2 separate regions of the Homo sapiens genome follow, and region 1 is linked to region 2. The links come from fine-mapping of genetic effects on gene expression. A gene starts in region 2. The other region holds a variant in brackets. All regions are shown on one strand. Distances are between the middles of the regions. Region 1 has its middle 15 kb from the start of KCNS1. Region 2 holds the start of RIMS4 (regulating synaptic membrane exocytosis 4).

The links. PIP is the estimated chance that this variant, and not a neighbour inherited with it, causes the effect. A credible set is the group of variants that fine-mapping cannot tell apart.
Region 1: its variant is the best candidate, but not a certain one, in a credible set for the expression of RIMS4 in thyroid (GTEx, PIP 0.84).

Annotation. Positions count from the first base shown.
Region 1 is chr20:45,083,692-45,087,956 of GRCh38, forward strand. No RefSeq gene overlaps it. Among named protein-coding and RNA genes, the nearest start is that of KCNS1, 15 kb to the right of the region's middle. The variant G/A (reference allele first, on the strand shown) is at 1,720.
Region 2 is chr20:44,808,736-44,813,000 of GRCh38, forward strand. RIMS4 (regulating synaptic membrane exocytosis 4) reads right to left here and starts at 1,811. Exons shown (of 6, transcript NM_182970.4): 1 at 1,440-1,811. The coding sequence starts at 1,536.

The DNA.
Region 1 (4,265 bases), 270 kb after region 2:
GTAGCAAGGTCTCTTCATAGAGACAAAGTAGAATGGTGGTTGGCAGAGGGAGGGAGAGAGGGATGGGGAGTTAGTGTTTAATGGGCCCAGAGTTTCAGTTGAGGAAGATGAAAAAGCTCTGGAGACAGATGTTCTTACAACAATGTGAGTGTACTTAATGCCACAGAACTTTACACTTAAAAATGGTTGAAATGGTAAATTCTATATGTATTTTGCCACAATAAAAAATCCAGATACAAACTAGTACATACTGTGCAATTCTTTTTATATACAGTTCAGAACCAAGGAAACCTACTCTATGATGTTAAAAGTCAGGGCAACGATTGCCTTTGTTGGTTGTGGGGTAGTGACTGGATGTGAGTATGAGGAGGGACTACAGTGCTACTCAGGTTCTAATTCTTTGAGTGCTTGTTACACAAGTGTGTTCATGATGAGAAAATTTATCAATGTGAACTCTTAGGATCTGTGCTTTTTTTTCCCATATGTATTTTATACTTGAATAAACAAGACTTTTTGCCTTCTACTCCACTGGGCTCTTTTAGAAGCTTCCAAGACCATGGATGGGAAGGCCCCTTGGAAACTACCTAGGCCTCTGCAGATGTAAGGGGTGGTTACTCTTAGCCCATGAGCATTTATCCCAGCCACATCTTGTTCTGATGAATGATCCAACAGAGGCCCAAGACTTGGCAGTGTCAAGTCTGGATTCAAACTTAGGCTTCTTGACTCCAGTGTTCACTCCAGGACCCCAACTATGGCCTCAAGTGTGAGTCCAGGTTGTGATCTCTAGATAAGCAAACCCCTTCCTTTCCCAGTGCCCTCTGCTTGGAGTTGCTTTGCCCTCCAGAGGAAAACAAGAGCCCTGGTAGAGGCTGCTGAGCTCTATTTCCTTGCTTTGCATTTTTTGGGCTTCTTTAATATTTAACCTTGTGCCAGGCATTTTCATACATATTATCTTACTTGAACTTGCCCATAACGCTCTGAGGTGTAGGTGTTATTAAACCAAGATAAGTGAAGAAACAGGCTCAGAGAGACAAAGAAACCCAACCAAGATCACACACCTCATAAGAAGCAGATTCAAGCCCAACTTGCTGGACTTAACCACATTCTTTCCTCTGCATCGCATGGCATCCCTCATATTCTCCCATTTTATTCAAATATTGTAAATAACTCACTGTCTGAAGCCAACACAGAAACACAGAGCAGAGAGAGAAGCAGGGAAAAATGACAAGATGACTTCAGTGGAACCTCTGGATCCACCTGTACTTAAGTCACTTTGTTGGGTCTCTTTCACTTGTACCTGAAAGATTCCTTATTGATCTAGGTATGTAGGAAAAGATGGCAGGGAGGTGGGGTGGGGGTTGGATACCAGTTGGGGGTTGGTCCTGATAATAATACCCCTTAGAGGTCAACAGGTCCAATCTAGGGTCACACACTGATGAGTGGCAGGGCCAATATTTGAACCCAGATGTGACTTCAAAAACCAAGGTGTGTGCAATTCTTCCTCTTGAATGAATGAATTTCTTGAGGGTTCTGAACTCTACCCTTCTGAGCAAGGTTAAATACCAGTCTACAACTGCCCTTGTCCTTTTCTTCCTTTCTAGCAGACAGGATTCTGAAAGACATTCCCTGTGCCACCCCCTCCCCTTCCTTCTCAAAGACTCCTGTCTTAGAAGATTATCTTCTCAACTTACTAACTTCCTGGAGAATTCTTTCCACACA[G/A]GCAGGGCCGGACTGGCCTGAAGTATGAGGTCTGGTATTGAGGACCATCCCAGCCAGCACCTCAGGGCTGTTTCCAGAGCCTTCAGATAGAAGAAACTCATTATAGGACGCACACTTCAAAGCCACTTCCTTCAGTGGTGCCTGGGGAGTTAAGTTTACCAGACAAAGTGATAATAGTGGGAAGTGGTGCTGAGTGAGTACAATCTGGTATTAAAAAGCCTGAGTTTGAATCCCTGATCTGCTACTTTTTAACTGTCTGACCATGGATCTTGGTTTTTTCATCTGTTCAGTGGTGATACTACTATTTTATTGTTGTTGCTGTTGTCTTGTGGAGTTGTTGTGAGAAGTATATGAGATAATGTATGTGAAACCACTTTGCAAATTACAGTGACAAGGATATGTGGAGGATGACTATTATTTGCTAGGCTATCTTCACTCTTGGGGGCTTCAAAGAGTACCATATAAGTCAACTGGAGTCTTCCACTCTGATGTCCCAGTGTAAACACCCTGCTTGGCCCTTATTTGAGCTGAACAGCTCTTCTTACTCAAAGGGATTGAGGAATGGGATTTGCTTCTTGTCTGACCTTGGACTTCTGGGTCTCTCTTTTCTGATCTGTAAAATGGGGCTGGAGAGGGGGCAGATCTTCAATCTGATAATCCCTAAGGAATATTATGTCTCACTCACAAGGGAAGTCGCCACCTTGAGGTCACTGCAAAGAGGGGGAAACTCAGTTTGTTTATCATTAACAACAAGCACATCACATCTCAGAGCCCAGATGTGCTGAGCTGTCCCACATGCCCCCAGTTGCTCCCTAACATCTCTGGACATTATCCTTCCATTTTACAGAAGTTGAAACTGAAGACCAAGAGAGCAAGACTGCAAGGGATTACTATGAGATCCGTCCTGTACTCCCTCTTCTGGGAACTGCTTGACTCCTACCCCAGCCATAGGTTCACATGATCCAACCCCTTCGCCACAGTTGAGTGATCCAGTCATCTCACCCAAGGTGACCAATCTCTGGGCCAATCAGATTTTTCAAACTGGAAATGGGAAGTTCTCTAGTGGAGGCGCTACAAGATACCAAACTGGGAGATGTTGGTAACCCTGTTATCTACCATGTGATGCAGAAACCAATTTCTCCGTCTGTCTATCTGTTTCTCTGTCTCTCTCTCTCATTCTTGATTTCGTCGTTGCTGAAACCAAGCTGCCTGGCTGCCATTCTCACTCAGTGGTATTGTAAAAGATATGTGTTGGTTTTGTCTCCCCTGGATCCTTTCCCCTCATTTTAATGAAAGGACCCTCATCTTCCTTCAGGGAGCTACCCCTCTGCCATCTATGTCCTGGTGGGACTGTCTGTGATAGTTCCTCCCATCTCACCCCGAAATCATGTGATGAGCATATGACCCAAACCAGTCTAGTTAGACTCAATCTTCAGAGAATTTTTTAGCTTGAGCAGAGTGATTTATACAATGGAGGCAGTTGTCACTAAGCTATTTTAATTGTAGTGCCCCAAAGAGGTGATTTATGAGTTTTACCTACCTCAATCCCTATGTTGCTCGAATTGCTGTCTTTCTCAAAGCCTTGTTGTTTAATTTGACTTTGATCCTATCCAGTACCTTTCCAATGCAGTCCTTTTTTGGCTTAAGTTTTCCAGAGTTGGATTCTGTTGTTTGCAACCAAAAATTCCTAACTGATACAGAAATTGGAACTAGAGTTGAGTTGTAGACACCATATCCTCTAGGAAATGTGGGATATTTCCTAAGACTGTGATGGGGCAAAATACAATGAGGTTGTTGCTCATGCTCTAGTCTGGGAAGCCAGCAATGGTCTGCAATGGTAAAGACCTATGTCTTACATTACTTCATAGCATCTGACCACTGAGGAGGCTCTCAGAGAAGGGATAACACGTGTCACAGTTAATTTTAAGGAAGTGAGGAGTGTTCAGGCTGTGTGATAGAGTATTTTGTTTCTAACCACATAGATTAATATAAAGGGAGAGTCAACAAAGGAAGCCCCAATGCCTTTTTTTTTAACATAAAAAAAATTCATAAACAGAATGAACGGACAGCATTTCTATGACTACGGTAAAAGACTCTCTTATGACTTGCAGTAGGGCCTAGTTCTCCAAATACCAAAGTTGGCAATTGATGATGCAGGCTGCTGAATTCACAGCCCTGCTGCACTTTGTGAAGTTAGGCATTAATAGGCAGTGGGATTATGACAAGTGGAATGATCATATGAGAGGATGTGGGAGAAAACTGAAAGCTCTCTAAAACACTGGGTGCAAACAATTCACACCTTTTCTTAGAGGAGAAAGCTCACAATTTTCTGCTTGCCCCATCCCTCAAGGCTACTTAGCTGGAAGGTGGGGATCAGTTTGGCCTAGAGCATGACAAGTAGACACAGTAGGTAAAAATCCTGGACCCATACAGAATTGAAGAAACTTGTTAACTGACACCATCAAAAATTTGGGGAAGTATCTGTGGAAATGGATTTTTGTGGTGCTTTATCAAGGAAGGGGGAATGTAATCTTGGCTCAGGCTGA
Region 2 (4,265 bases):
CATTCACCAGTCAACAAATTCTTCTGGAGAAAGGGCAGGAAGACATGCCCACCACTTCATCCCATGATGGAACCTTGGTGGCCAGGTTGATCAGACAAGGGTCCCCAAAGACTAAGTCTAAACCTGGGCCCAGGAACTTCCTAAAACCGTAGGCTACATTTTGTGGATGGTGCATATATGCACTTCGGGAGAGATAGTCCATGTTTTCCTCAGAGACTTGAAAGTGCCCATGAAACCATTTTGCTCCTCAAGCACATACACTCCTCCAGCACATACACTCCTCTGTTTTGTTCCCCCATTGAATTCAAAGACTCTCGGATTTTCACCTTATAAAACACTGAACTCCACCCTCACACCATACAGAGCTTTGCATCGATACGATGATCCCCATTTCAGAGATGAGGAAATCCAGGCTCAGAGGTGGCATGACTTGCCCAAGGTCACAGCTAAGAAGTAGAGAATGAAGACTGGAACCTGATTCCGATTCCCAATCTGGCATTCTTTGGGGAACTCTCACCCAAGCCCTCTAGCTACCCCACCTGTTGGTGGATTCCCTTCCTCACCCCAGAACCAAATCCGGAGCTCTCATGTTCCTTCTGCCGGGTCCCAGGGCCCTAAAGAGTAGGTTTCCCTACAGCTCCCCACCCCTCGCTCTGGCTGAGGTTGTGCGCAGGCCTGGGAGGAGGAGGTTCAAGCCGCTGGCTGGTGGCCGGCTTCAGCCCACCAAGAAAGGCGACTCCAGGGACAAGAGCACCTGAGGTCAGGGGCACACACCAGCGGGCGGACAAGTGTAGAGTTGGCGCCGCCCTACACCTCTCTCCGGGAAGAGAGGGGAGGAAAGGCCGTCACCTGGCCGGTTCCCCTCCGTCTGCCCCAGGCGTATAAGAAGCAGGAGTCTGGAGCCCCAGCCCATGAGGGAAGGAGAGGAGAGATAAATGGGGGCGCTCAAGGCCTGGGGCGCCGGGCAGGGGTCTTGGGCAGGGATCCTCTGGATGTGGCCAAGACAAAGATGGAGAGGTAAGGTCTGCGCGCCACCTCCAATGGCGGGGGGCGCGTCGGAGCCCCAGGGGTGGGACGGCCAAAGCCCAGGGCTTGAAGAGTGGGCACATTCAGGAGACTCAGGGAGGGTGGCAGGTCGGCTCCAGGGACGAGGCAAGGGGCCTCCAATAGGCGCGGGTGAGGAGGGAGATGGGTCCTGGCGACCCAAAGGGCCCACCTGCGGGAAAGGTGAATGCAGACAATCTCGGGGTCCCTGGGGGAGAAGGCCAGAAGGTAGCGCATCCTGGAGACCCTGGGGTCCCGTGGGTGCGGAAGGAGACCCTGGGGGCGCCTTCCCAGGGGATTGGGGGTGGGGAGGAGGGCGCACGGGTCGGGGAGGGGGCTACCGGACCTGGATCCCGGGACACCCCGGGGGTCTGGGGGGCGGGCCGCGCGCTTACCTGCGTCCTCGTCGTCGAAGGAGTTCATGCACGGGAAGTAGATGGCGAGCGCCTCGAAGGAGGCGGACAGACTGAGGCGGCTCTGCGAGCGCTCCATGCCCGCGCCGGCGCCGGGCGCCTCGGCCGCGGCGGCGGCGGCGGCGGCGGGCGGCTTGGGCAGCTTGGCCGCCCCATTCTTGACGCGGAGTACGGCGCGCGGCGTGGTGGCGGCGGCCCGGGGCCGGGCCGAGGCTCCGCTGCGGGGCTGGCGGGCGCGGCGGGGCCGGCGGGCGGGCCAGGAGCTGGCGGCGCGCGGAGCCCGAGGCGCGCTGTGCTGCTGGCGGCGGCGGCGGCGGCGGCGGTGGCGGCGGCGGTGGCGGCGCAGCGCGCTCTGGTCCGCGGCGCCCCCCGCCGGCAGCGCGAGGCGGGCTTGGAGCGGCGCCGCAGCCAATCCGTGCCGCCGGGGGAGGGGGCGCCGCTGCGGGGCGTGGGAGCCCGGAGGGCGCGGGCTGCGGCCTCTTCTAGCAGCCCCCGGGCCCGGCAGGTGCGCGCGGGGAGGCAGGCGCCGGGCGAGGTTGTCTGGGCCCTGGTCCGAGGGCTGTTCCCGACCCCGCCTCGGCCCCCACCCTCAGCCGGCCGACTTGCGGAGAGGCCGGCGTCCAGTCCCTCACCCAGACAGGCCTCTCCCAGAGACACTGGCGCGCTCGGAGGGGATGCGCTCAAAGGGTCCCGCCCAGGCGGGTCGGCACTCGGCCTCCCACACAGAGACCCTCGGCTTCACACCTGCACCCACAGAGAAGCTCAAACAGGCACCCACACCTACACATTCACTCTGCAACATGCCCCGCAGACACCCGGACAGATACACCCACAGACCCACCCCCTCACAGATGCGGGGACAGACACGTCCACGGACACACGCAGACTCACGCAGAGACCTGCAAACACACTCAGGGAGGTAGGCAGGACATCCCTGGTGCCCGGCCTCCCTCACGGGGAGACTCTCAGATGCCACAAAACCCCACGAAGTTCAGGTAGGCATACACAGTCTCATGCATTCACACTTACCAAAGACACCCCAGAATTCATACACACATTCATACACTCAGATGAACACACAAGCCCAGACCCAGCACACACTCTGTGTCGCCTCCCCCTGTGATCATCTCAGCACTGTCAAACACTCTGACTGACACGGCCAGATGCACACACCTTCACCCTCAGACACACTAGAGTAGCACACACACGCCAAGACACAGCCACACAGACTCCATCCCTCCCAGTGTGGGTGCATCCCGACGGATTGACTGACACCCTCAGACTCAGGTACACTGAGACACACTTGGCAGGCTCACACTCACAGACTCTCCCATTATCACCCTCGGCGACCCGCAGTCCTCAGACACACACGGGCTCAGACACTCACAGCCCCAGGACAGAGACGAGCGAATCGGAAACCCGTGTTCCATTCCCTGCATGTGACCTGGGACGTGAGGGTCCCTGCCCACCTAATCAGGCCCCAGATGTCAAACAACCTTCTCAGCTGCTCGCACACCTCTTTATGAAGCCATCTGGCGACATGGAAACAGTTCAGGCCTCAGAAAGAGACAGCCCAGAGTTTGAATCTCAGCTGTGGTGCTGTCTTTCTGGGTGGCCTATGGCAAAACTCTTTATCCCATGGGTCCTGTTCCTCATCTGTACAATGGGGACAGGAGCCTTCCATTTTGGATGGTTGTGAACTGCCTGTAAGATAACACAGGTGTTTGTTTTCTATTGCTGCATAACAAATGAAGCAGCTTAAAAACACCAATCTAGTGATTTACAATCCTGTAGGTCAGAAGTCTGGGCAGCCTGAGCTGGGTTCTCTGCTTAGGGCCTCACAAAGTATTGGCCAGACTGGGCTCTTCTCTGCAGGCTCTGGAGAAGAATCCGCTTCCAAGATCATTCAGGTTGTTGGCAGGATTCAGTTCCTTGTGGTTGCAGGACTGAGGTTCCTGTTTCCTTGCTGGCTGTCAGCCAGAAGTCAACCTCAGCTCCTAGAAGTGGCTTTCTGGTCCTTTCACCTGGCCCCTTCCACCTTCAAGGCCAGTTTCAGGATGTCAAGCCCTTCTCATCCTTCAGTAGAATCTTTCTACCTTGGCTTCTGCTTACTGGCCTGAGAGATTCTGCTTTTAAAGGTCTCGTGTGATTAGATCAGGTCCACTCGCATGATGTCCCTTTGACATATAATGTAATATAATCACGGTAGCGATTCCTGATCAGGGTCGCAGTTTCCACCCATGCTCACACAAGGGCGGGATCACACAAGGTATTACATAAGGGCAAGGATCACTGGAGTTATTCTGACACATCTGCCCATCACAGTGTGCAAAACACCTAGCACAGTGCTGGCCTTCGGCAGGTGCTCCTGAGCCCTAGCCCCTTCCCAGGGACCAGATCTAGACTTTGAGGCAGCCTGGTGTCATGGTTAAGAGTGCTGGTATAATCATCCCCATCTTGGTCAATGGCAGCTCCATTTTTCCACTTGTTTGGATCAGAAATGTTGGATACTTGACTCCAGTCTCACACACACCACATTCAATCCATCAGCAACTCCTGTCATTTCTATACACAAAATGTAACCAGAAACTGACCACTTCTCTGCCCCAAACCCTCCCATCTCACAGTCAAAGTCCATGTTCTACAAGGTCCTAACTTCTTTGGCTCTGCCACCCCTCTGTCTTCATACCCAGGACACCCCGGTGGCTCACTCGGCTTCAGAACATCTGTACTGCTGTTCCCTCTGCCTGAAGCCCTCTCCCTTGCAAAGGGCTGTGTAGCTCACTCACAGATCTCTGCTCAAATGTC